Homo sapiens: one gene and its partners. The protein of the gene in region 1 interacts with the protein of each later gene in a pairwise test. Each region holds a gene or a part of one and is shown in the gene's direction. Other genes may lie near its edges. The genes, in order: PPT1, ASB3 and ATL1.

Region 1 (3,756 bases):
CCCTCTGCCTCCTGGGTTCAAGTGATTCTCCTGTCTCAGCCTCCTGAGTAGCTGGGATTACAGGCACCCACCACCATGCCCGGCTAATTTTTTGTATTTTTAGTAGAGATGGGGTTTCATCATGTTGGCCAGGCTGGTCTCAAACTCCCAACCTCAGGTGATCCACCTGCCTCAGCCTCCCAAAGTGCGCCCAGTGGATTCTGCATTTTAATCGACTTTTCAACTAACAACTTACCTCTAGTCCCAATGGCATGGAATAGAAGAGATTACAGACCGTGGGTTTGTAATCGACTTTTCTTTTACAACATATTAAGGGCATTTTTCATGTCACTTTATGTAAATTTACCTCATTTTTCTTTTTTGAGAGAGACAGGGTCTCACTGTTGCCCAGGGCAACAGCGAGATCATAGCTCAGTGCAATGGCGAGATCATAGCTCAATGCAGCCTTGAACTCCTGGGCTCAAGTGATCCTCCCACCTTAGCCTCCCCAGTAGCTAGGATTACAGGCACATACCACCACCCCTGGCTAATTAAAAAAAAATTTTTTTTTTGTAGAGATGGGGTCTTGCTATGCTGCCTGGGCTGTACTCTCTTTTTATTTATTTTTTATTCTTATTTTTTGAGACAGAGTTTTGCTCTTGTTGCCCAGGCTGGAGTACAATGGTATGATCTCAGCTTACCGCAACCTCTGCCTCCCGGGTTCAAGAGATTCTCCTGCCTCAGCCTCCTGAGTAGCTGGGATTACAAGTATGCGCCACCACACCCGGCTAATTTTGTAATTTTAGTAGAGACGGGATTTCTCCATGTTGGTCAGGCTGGTCTCGAACTCGCTACCTTAGATGATCTGCCCACCTCAGCCTCCCAAAGTGCTGGGATTACAGGAGTGAGCCACCGCGCCCGGCCCTATACTCATTTTTTATAAAACTGGCCTCATATTATTCCATTGTATAGTGGATACACTCTAATTTCTTTATAAATTATTTAAACTATTTTTTGATGTTTTGTTGAAAAAAAACTTGAGCAGGGAACTGATATTATGAAGGTGGATTGAGGGATGAATGTGGCAATAGAGCATAAAATGAATTAAAGAGGAGAGAATGGAAAAGGAAATGGTTGATGAGAGACCCTTGAAATAATCCAGCTGAGATTAGGCCAGTTAGTGGCCATGGGTTTCCCCCTCACTCTTATGCATCCAACATATGCTTTCGTCCGTCTTGAAGTCCCGACATTTCTAGAAAACACAGTTGTCTTTCTCCTCTCTACCTTAGCTCATCTCAGTCCTTCTGAATTTCATCTTTGCTTGTTGAAATCCTACCTCTCCTTCAATATCCAGAACAAACCCCACACCCTGCCATGATTGGTCCTGGCTGGAAACCGTCCCTCCTTCTTTCTTCCTTCCTCTGTGCATGTTTCTTGCAAAGGCAGTACAGGGCAGTGGTGAAGAGCAACGACTTTGGAACCACCAATTTGCTATCTCTGTGACCTTGGGCACCTTACTCAGTGCCAATTCGCAGTGCCTCAGTGTCCTCACCTGTCAGGGGGAGAAGTGCATACAGCATTGTTATGAAGAGTGAATTAGTTAAAGGTTGTAAGAATAGTGCCTGATAGCATCTGATCAGCACTGAATATATGTTAGCAATTATTTTGATTCACCGCAGAGGGCGGTCTACGAGAGCGCAGAGCCCCACTCGGCCAGCGGGGTCTGGCGGGGGACCTGTCGCGCTGAAAGCTCCAGGGTAGGGCCGACGCCCATCAGGCTGGGCATCCGTTCGGGATGCGCAGGTTGCGATCTGCAACCGGCGGCGCCACGCCCAGGCGGGCGGAGCGCGGTTCCCGGAGTCTCGCGCCCGCGGTCATGTGACACAGCGAAGATGGCGTCGCCCGGCTGCCTGTGGCTCTTGGCTGTGGCTCTCCTGCCATGGACCTGCGCTTCTCGGGCGCTGCAGCATCTGGACCCGCCGGCGCCGCTGCCGTTGGTGATCTGGCATGGGATGGGTGAGTGAGTGAGAAATTTAAAAGGGTTTGGCGATTCTCTCTCTTCCTAGCCTGGGTTCGCATCTGCAAAATGCGGGTGTAGAGGGCGAGGACGTGGTCCCACAGCACGCGGCTGCCTCGACATTTTAGGATTTGAAGGATCTGCATTGGAAAGAGAGAAGGGGAAGGAGCCGTCCCCTTCACTGGAAAGAGAGAAGGGGAAGGAAAGAGAGAGCCGCGCACGGCGTTGAAGTTTTACATGCTGTCCTTGATTAATCCTTACAGTAGTGGCGTCAGGATGCAGCATCTCTCACTTGGTCAGGCTAGGTGAGCTGCGGCTGGCTATATGACTGGCGCATCTACCCTTTTATTTATTCCTTCACACATTGAACAGAGATTTGTTAGGCACCTACAGTTCATTTACAAATTGAGTAACCCTTATCTGAAATGCTTGGGACTGGGAAGCATTTCGGATTTTTTTTTTTTTAATATTTGCATATATACAAGAGATCTGGGGGGTGGGACCCAAGTGTAAACAGGAAATTTATTTATTTTTCATATACACCTTATACACATAGCTGGAAGGTAATTTTATGCAATATTTTAAATAATTTTGTGCAACCCATCACATGAGGTCAGGTGTGGAATTTTCCACTTGTGGCATCATGTCTGCGCTGAAAAACTTTCAGATTTTGGGTTTCCCATTTTCAGATTAGGATGCTCAACCTATATTCATTTAACACAGTTATTGAGCACCTACTAGGTGCTGAGGATACAGTAGGGAACTAAACAGACTAAATTCTTTGTTCTTTTGGAACCTACTCTCCAGTAGGAGAAGCAGATTATAAAGAAATTAACAAGTAAAACATAACATATCAAATGGTGATATGTGCAACAGAGAAAAATATAGTAGGGTGTAGGATAAAAACTGGAGGTGGGGGCTTGCACTTTTAATAAAGCAAAGTTGGGAAAGAATTCATTGAAAAAGTGACATCTGAGTACAAAACTGAGGTAGATGAGGACAGTTGCCATTTGGCTGTCTGGTAGAAGGAACAGTAAATGGGAAAGCCCTGATGTGGAAGTATGTCTGGTGTGTTCAAGGGACAGCATTCAGATCAGCGTGGCTGGAAATGAGTAAGCAAGGGGAAGAAGTTAGGAGTTTAGTTTGGAAGGGAGGGGCAGGTACAGAAGTTATTGGGCCTAGTAAGACTAATGCAGGGACTTTGGCTAGAGTGTCATGGGGAACTTTTTGAGCAGATGAGTGACATGATCTGACACATTTTTAAAGAATCACTTTAGTTGCTGTATTAAGAATAGATCGTAGGGCGTCATGGATGGTCACAGGGAGACAGGTTAGGAAACTATTGCAATAATTTAAACAAGAGATGATGACTTGGAACTGTAGAGTAACAGTAGAGGTGTTGAGAAGTGGTCAAAGTTTGGATAGATTTTGAAGGTGGATTGCTAACAGATCAGACTTGGAATAAGAGAGAAAGAAAGGAGCCAAAGATGACTCCACAGGTTTTGGCCTGAACAATTGGAAGGGTGAAGTTTTCATTTTACCAAGATGGGGAAGCCTGTAGGACAAGCTGACTTAGGGTGGGGGAAAGATCAAGAGTCTGCTTTTGGGCTTACTAAACTTGAGATCCTCATGAGACACCCAGGAGATGTTGTAGAGGCATTTGGAGTGTGGAGTCTAGGACAGAGATACGGGTTGGAGATTTAAGTAGGGAGTCTTCGGCATACAGCTAGTAGTTAAAGGCTAGGTGAGACCACCTAGGA
Region 2 (3,756 bases), on another chromosome or scaffold:
GGGGAGGAGTTGGGACCTGAGGTCTCCATGATGTTAAAGATTGGGTGTGGCAATAAGGGAGAGCAAACTCTGGAAGAATAGAAACTGGTGTCTGTTGGAGTTTAAAGACAGAAGCGTGGATCTGAAGTGGTGCACAAGAAGTATAAGAATGCTAACATTGCCCCCCAGACCTTGCAACAGGTGTAGCAAGGCATGGAAAATGAGAAGATTGTATTTTCAAAATTGGCCAAGGAAGTAATTTCCTTGCAAGAATCAGGCTTTTGTGAGGAGAAGAGGGGGAGGCAGAATGTTCTATACAGAGTTCATGGTAGAATGGGGATTCCCGAGGACTTATCTCTCTTCCCATCCTCCACTTAGCATACATGGCCCAGTGCCTTGTACCTACATATCCGTAGGGGTTACATCAGGATTTCCCAAAGTCGGGTGCATGGGGTTGACTGTGCCACCACATTTGTGGTGTGCTATAGTGAATTTTTGTTCATATGTGATTGCTTAGTGCACCTATAATGATATTTTGTAGTTTTAATTTAACCACTTCTCACAAATTGGTCAAGTGGCTTAAAACGATTTCTGTAAAGAAGTAGTATTTTCTGTAGATAATATTAAAAGTGCAAGCACAAGTGAACCAACATAATCATCGTAGAGCTGCATTCTCTTGTTATTTACCAGGCATGTTATGTGATAAAAATGATGACCACCTGGGTTACCGGGTTGAAGGCGGGATGGTTGTGGGGAAATGAAAAGATGTAGGTCAAAGGGTATAAAGCTGCAGTTTTGTAGGATGAGGAAGTTCTAGAGATCATGAGAACTATAGTTAAAAATACTGTGTTGTGTACTGGTAATTTACCAAGATAGTAAATTTTAGGCACACACATGCACACACACACACACACACCAGCAAGGTAACTATATGAGATGATGGGTATATTAATGTTTGTTTGACTGTAGTAATCACTTCATTATGGTAGGTATATCAACATAAGCATACAAAACATCACATTGTACACTTTAAATATATACAATAAAATAATAAAAATTTTAAAAAGCTAAAAAGAGCTAAAATAAAAATGACTACCACCTAATTGCAACTGACAAATATAAAATTATCAAGAAAATATTTAAAATATAGTCTCACCTTTACTTTAACAGTGAGCCTTGTCCTTAACATGTAGTGTGCCTTGAGATAATTAGCTAATGGAAGAACCATACTCAGCAAGACACTCTAATCTACACATTCGGAACATGAGGGCAAACCCTGTGATTTTTTTTTCTCAATGTTTTAAGTCCTAGGATGCCCAGTGCATTATTTTTTACAAAATTTACTAAACATAATGATAAAGGCTTAGAACTCTTTTTGAGTTTTCTTATTCAATAGCAAAAGACAAAAAGTCACAGACCATTGGGGAAACTCATGTTCCTCCTGCCACAGTAAAACTGGCTGAAATAATATGAGGACAAAACAAAATGCATTCCTTATTAGCAAATGTTGTTAAAGGAGCATAGAAAACACTGCTAAAGCATTAAAGCAGAGTTTTTTTTTAAAAAAAACCTGCAGATAGAAAGTTTGGTGTACTAAGTTGGAAGGAGATTTGTGGTATTTATAACATGTTACAACTTAGGGTATTTGTTAAGATTCTCTTTCAGTGAGAGAATAGGCAATTTTTTAAGAGCTGCTAAAGGAAAAATGCACCAGAAAAGAGATACAGTGAGGTGTATTAACAACGGGGATACAGTCTGAGAAGTGCTTTGTTAGGCGATTTTGTCATTGTGCAAATATTATAAAGTATTCTTATATAAACTAGATGGTAGAGCCTACTACACACCTGAGGCTACATAGTATAGCCTATTGCTCCTAGGCCACAAACTTGTACAGCATGTTACTGTGCTGAATACTATAGGCAGTTGTAACACATTGGTAAGTATTTGTGTTTCTAAACATAGGAAAAGTACAGTAAAAATACAGTATAGGCCGGGCGCGGTGGCTCACACCTGTAATCCCAGCACTTTGGGAGGCTGAGGCGGGTGGATCACCTGAGGTCAGGAGTTTGAGACCAGCCTGGCCAACATGGCGAAATCCTGTCTCTACCAAAAATACAAAAATTAATCGGGCATGGTGGCAGGCGCCTGTAATCCCAGCAACTCGGGAGGCTGAGGCAGGAGAATTGCTTGAACCTGGGAGGCAAAGTTGCAGTGAGCTGAGATCGTGCCACTGCACTCCAGCCTGGTGACAGAGTGAGACTCCGTCTCAAAACAAAACAAAACGAACAAACAAAACAGCACAAAAGATGAAAAATGGTAGATCTGTATAGGGCACTTACTAGGAATGGAACTTGCAGGACTGGAAATTGCTCTGGGTGATATCAATGAGTGAGTGGAGAGTGAATGTGAAGGCCTCAGACATTACTGTATGCTACTGTATACTTTAACGCCATATACTTAGGCCACACTAAATTTATAAAAAAATTAGTTGATGTTATGACACCTGTGACATCACTAGATAATAATAATTTTTCAGCTCCATTATAATCTTGTGGGGCCACCATCGTATATGTGGTCCGTCGTTTACTAAAATATCCTTACGCAGTGTATGCCTGTATTGGCAACAGTAATGGCTTATTTAACAGAATGATGTGTTTTGGAAAAGGTGTGTAAGAATGACCATTGAAGGAGTGGTGGCTGCTTTTCTCCAAATGTAAGGTAATGGAGATAACATGAAATGAGTTTACTACATCATTCATAGGCTAGTATAGGAGAAGAGTTGAATCCAGAATTGCACGAAGTAGTATCACTGTGGATACTTTCCTAAAGCATGACCTTTAAAATATATTAGAGTCTTTGCAGTACTTTATAATGAGGTGGGAGTGACCATAGTTATTGTTTATACATCCATAGTTTTGCTCATTGTCTGTGATACAATATATAAAAGAACCCTTAAGCTCAAAGGTAAATTATGTGCTTTTCTTTTACAAAAATACAGCTTTTCCAATTTTCTTGAGCTTTTTCTTTCTTGGTGATAAATAGCTATGCAACCTACCATGTATTTTGTAAAAATTCTGTTGATTTAGGGAAGAGATGACATTTTAACTGAGTGAGAAGTAACTGCCTTCTGAAAGGAACTCCCCTCCATGCCCTGCAATGCAGGTTAAAGCCAAGCAATGAAAGAAACTTTTGCTATGTGGAGATGATTTTGAAAATAGGTACTAGGAAATATTTTTATTGTTACGTTATTTTCTTGTGAAAAGTAGTATATATCACCTGGAAAAACTCTTTCATTGACATACTTAAAACACTTGGAAATAGTTCCCCTTTGTTTTGAACTCCATTTAGTAAAAATGCAAAACTTTCTGATTAGCTTATAAACTGATTGATATCAGGAAAAAATAGAAATTTACCAGATGAATTTTGACAATAACTTTTTCATAATTGCTAGATAGGCTAGATAGAATCCTGATTTAGTTCAGCTAAGCCACAGTGTACTTCTCCCATTTAGACCTTATTTCAGCTACATCCATGTATCAGAATAAACTGGGCTTAGAACCAACTCTTTGAATTGCTAGATCACTAAGAATTACATTAATAAAGCCTAGTCAATCACCTTGTTCTTGTTAAAATATTAATATTTAAAGGAGTCTTATACCTTTAAAAATGAAATTATTTAAAGTATATATCTTATTTTATATTGGCTTATTTTATTTTATAGTACAAATAATGTTTGGTTAATAGTATACATGTAATTTATATGTAAAATATATATTG
Region 3 (3,756 bases), on another chromosome or scaffold:
ATCAAAGAGCGCTGATGGAGATGTATTTAAGGAAATTAATGTTTTCATGCCTGCTAACACAATATCCATTCTACAGCCCAGGATCAAGGAGTAATTTTGACTTTCAAAAGTTAATAAGAAATACATTTTGTAAGGCTATAGCTGCCATAGATAGTGATTCTTTTGATGGATCTGGGCAAAGTACATTGAAAACCTTCCAGGAGAAATTCACCATTCTGGATGCCATGAAGAGAATCTGTGGTTTATAGGAGGCAAAAATATCAACAAGAATGTGGAAAAAGTTGATACCAACCCTTCTGGATGACTTTGAGAGGGGTCCAAGACTTCAGTGGAGGAAGGAAGTGCATGTGTGGTGCAAACAGCAAGAGAACTTAAAAGTGGAGCCTGAAGATGTGACTCAATTTTGTATTCTCTTAACGGATAAGGAGTTGCTTCCTATGGATAAGCAAAGACAGTGGTTTCTGGAGATGGAATCTACTCCTAGCGAAGATGCTGTGAACAGTGTTGAAATGACAACAAAGGGTTTAGAATATTTTTTATTGGTACATAATAGATGTACATATTTTTGGAGTACATATGATAAATTGATACATCCATATAATGTGTAAAGATCAAATCAGGGAAAGTGTGGTATTTATCACCTTAATATTTCTTTATGCTAGGAACATTCGAATTATTCTCTTCTGGCCATTTTGAAATGTACAGTAGATTATTGCTAATTACAGTCACCCTACTGAGCTATTGAACACTGTCTTATTTCTTCTAACTGCTTTATTTGTACCCATTAATCAACCTCTCTTCATCCCCTTCCCCCTACTCTTTTCCTTTCCAGGGCTTTAAAATATGAAATAAAGTTAGTTGATAAAGCATTGGCAGGGTTAGAGAGGATTGACTCCAATTTTTAAAGAAGTTCTACTATGAGTAAAATGCTGTCAAATGGCATCCCAGGCTACAGAGAAATCTTTCATGAAAGGAAGTCTATCAATATGGCAAACTTTACTGTTGTCATATTTTAAGAAATTGCCACAGCCACCTCAACCTTCAGCAACACCACCCTAATCAGTCAGCAGCCATCGACATCGAGGCAAGAGCCTCCACCAGCAAAAAGATTGATGTGCTGAAGGCTCAGATGATCCTTAGCATTTTTTGCAATAAAGTGTTCTTAAATTATGTACATGGTTTTTAGATATGCTACTGCACACTTTACTAGACTGCTACATAATGTAAACATAACTTTTATATGAATTAGGAAATAAAAAAAATCATGTGACTTGCTTATTGCAGTGGTCTGGAACCAAACATGTATTATCTCTGAGGCATGCCTGTAACCAAAGTGAATGGTATGGTTAACTGAGATTACCCTTGTAACTTTTCAAAAAATTGAAAATGTTATTCAAGAACATTTAATATACTCCTAACTTAGTTTCTGGAAGAAAATACTCAATTGGCTCCATTCAAATAAAAATCAGTAAAACTGCTAAAGAATGTATTTCACAGTTTACTTTGAGAGCTTTATAGCATTGATCATTGTTTATTAAACCTCATTGGTTAACATGACTTCAGTGTAGTTAGATTTCCTAGAATTTGGATATACGTAGTTTTCTTAGATTTGGATTCATTCTGTGAATGAACTCAGTTTGCACTTCATGTTGTGTCACACGTCTTTTCATCTTGAAGGACTTGGATTAAGTGATAAATATTATTTTCCATGTCAAAAAGAGAAAAATTTAAAATGATTTTAAGCCACCTATAAAATACCAGTCCCATTTATAGTCATGCCTCGTGGATAGGGGGTGGAAAGATGTGGGCTGACAAAACATATATGCAGGCTCCTGATTATTAACGTATTCTAACAAACTCAACTAGCTAAGTGAAAAATTTTGATACAGTTGCCAATTTTACTCTGCATTGCATAAACAAATACTTCTCTATCTGATACAGATTTGTGGTGGTGACAAACCATTTCTGGCCCCAAATGACTTGCAGACCAAACACCTGCAACTTAAGGAAGAATCTGTGAAGCTATTCCGAGGGGTGAAGAAGATGGGTGGGGAAGAATTTAGCCGGCGTTACCTGCAGCAGTTGGAGAGTGAAATAGATGAACTTTACATCCAATATATCAAGCACAATGATAGCAAAAATATCTTCCATGCAGCTCGTACCCCAGCCACACTGTTTGTAGTCATCTTTATCACATATGTGATTGCTGGTGTGACTGGATTCATTGGTTTGGACATCATAGCTAGCCTATGCAATATGATAATGGGACTGACCCTTATCACCCTGTGCACTTGGGCATATATCCGGTACTCTGGAGAATACCGAGAGCTGGGAGCTGTAATAGACCAGGTGGCTGCAGCTCTGTGGGACCAGGTAAGAACACCTTTAATTCACAACTAAATTCAGCACACATTTGAATGTCATCCATGTGCCAGCCACTGCATTAGATGTTGGAAATACAGATCAACAGGAATTGGGCCCCAGTCATCAAGAATGTTATGACCTGCCCAGATACAAGCAACTAACTATATAATACTGTGTAAAATGTGAAGTCCTACACAACTATTTTCCAGTTAACATTTCAGCATTTAAAAAAATATACATCAGTTTAGTAGTATATATACTTTTTTTTCTTTTTTTGGGTAGGGGGGCAGTCTTGCTCTGTCATCTAGGCTGGAGTGCAGTGGCGTGATCTCAGCTCACTGCAACCTCCGCCTCCCAGGCTCAAGCAATTCTTGTGCCTCAGCCTCTCGAGTAGATGGGACTACAGGTGCATACCACCATCCCCAGCTAAGTTTTTGTATTTTTTGTAGAAACGGGGTTTCACCATGTTGGCCAGGCTGGTCTCAAACTCCTGACCTCAAGCAATCTGCGCGCCTCAGCCTTCCAAAGCGTTGGGATTATAGGCGTGAGCCACCCAGCCTACTTTTTATTATTCTAAAAATGTTATATCTATTAAAAGTTGTAAGAGACAACAGCTTTTATTTAGCTAATTATGACTTGTGTTAACATTATCTCATATTTACAACCTATGATTTGATTAGCATTAGCTTTGTTAGGAGCTATCTGAACCACTATCATAAGTTGTCATATCATTCTCTTTTTTAGTTAAAAACTTCCAAAAGCAGTATCAGATTACTTCAGATTGTCTCTGTACCTGTAGGCAGCAGGTAATAGCTACAATTCTTCCAGCATTAAGAACATACTTATGGCCAGGTGCGGTGGCTCACGCCTGTAATCTCAGCACTTTCCGAGGCCAAAGTGGGCGGATCATCTGAGGTCGGGAGTTTGAGACCAGCCTGGCCAACATGGAGAAACCCCGTCTCTACTAAAAATACAAAAATAGCCAGTCATAGTGGCGCATGCCTGTAATCCCAGCTACTCGGGAGGCTGAGGCAGGAGAATCGCTTGAACCCAGAAGGCGGAGGTTGCACTGAGCCGAGATGGCACCACAGCACTCCAGCCTGGGCAACAAGAGTGAAGCTCCATCTCCCAAAAAAAAAAAAAAAAACCCTACTTATATATACTTTATAACATAATTGTAACGTGCCTTTGAAGGATCTAGCTGAGATAAACTAGTGGTAGCACAATGGGAAATGAATGAAGTAAAAACTGGATCCTCTGAGCCACTTTCTGAAATAGTCCCTCAACCACAAAAGATTTAAGAGGGGTTGAGGTCAATGTCAAAACCCTCCTAGACTTATGTTATGCTAAAACCTATGAGGAATACAGAATTGAGTTCTTCAAAGATTCTGA

What was found.
Region 2: the proteins of PPT1 (region 1) and ASB3 interact in binary tests that used the Homo sapiens proteins (3 or more experiments, as listed by UniProt).
Region 3: the proteins of PPT1 (region 1) and ATL1 interact in binary tests that used the Homo sapiens proteins (3 or more experiments, as listed by UniProt).

Annotation. Positions count from the first base shown.
Region 1 is NC_000001.11:40,095,354-40,099,109, reverse strand, and holds the start of PPT1 (palmitoyl-protein thioesterase 1 isoform 1 precursor), read left to right. Parts: upstream 1-1,857; 5' UTR 1,858-1,871; coding exon 1,872-1,995; intron 1,996-3,756. UniProt on the Homo sapiens protein: Has thioesterase activity against fatty acid thioesters with 14 -18 carbons, including palmitoyl-CoA, S-palmitoyl-N-acetylcysteamine, and palmitoylated proteins. In contrast to PPT2, PPT1 can hydrolyze palmitoylated proteins and palmitoylcysteine.
Region 2 is NC_000002.12:53,675,280-53,679,035, reverse strand, and holds part of ASB3 (ankyrin repeat and SOCS box protein 3), read left to right. Parts: intron 1-3,756. UniProt on the Homo sapiens protein: Probable substrate-recognition component of a SCF-like ECS (Elongin-Cullin-SOCS-box protein) E3 ubiquitin-protein ligase complex which mediates the ubiquitination and subsequent proteasomal degradation of target proteins. Recognizes TNFRSF1B.
Region 3 is NC_000014.9:50,626,090-50,629,845, forward strand, and holds part of ATL1 (atlastin-1), read left to right. Parts: intron 1-1,941; coding exon 1,942-2,373; intron 2,374-3,756.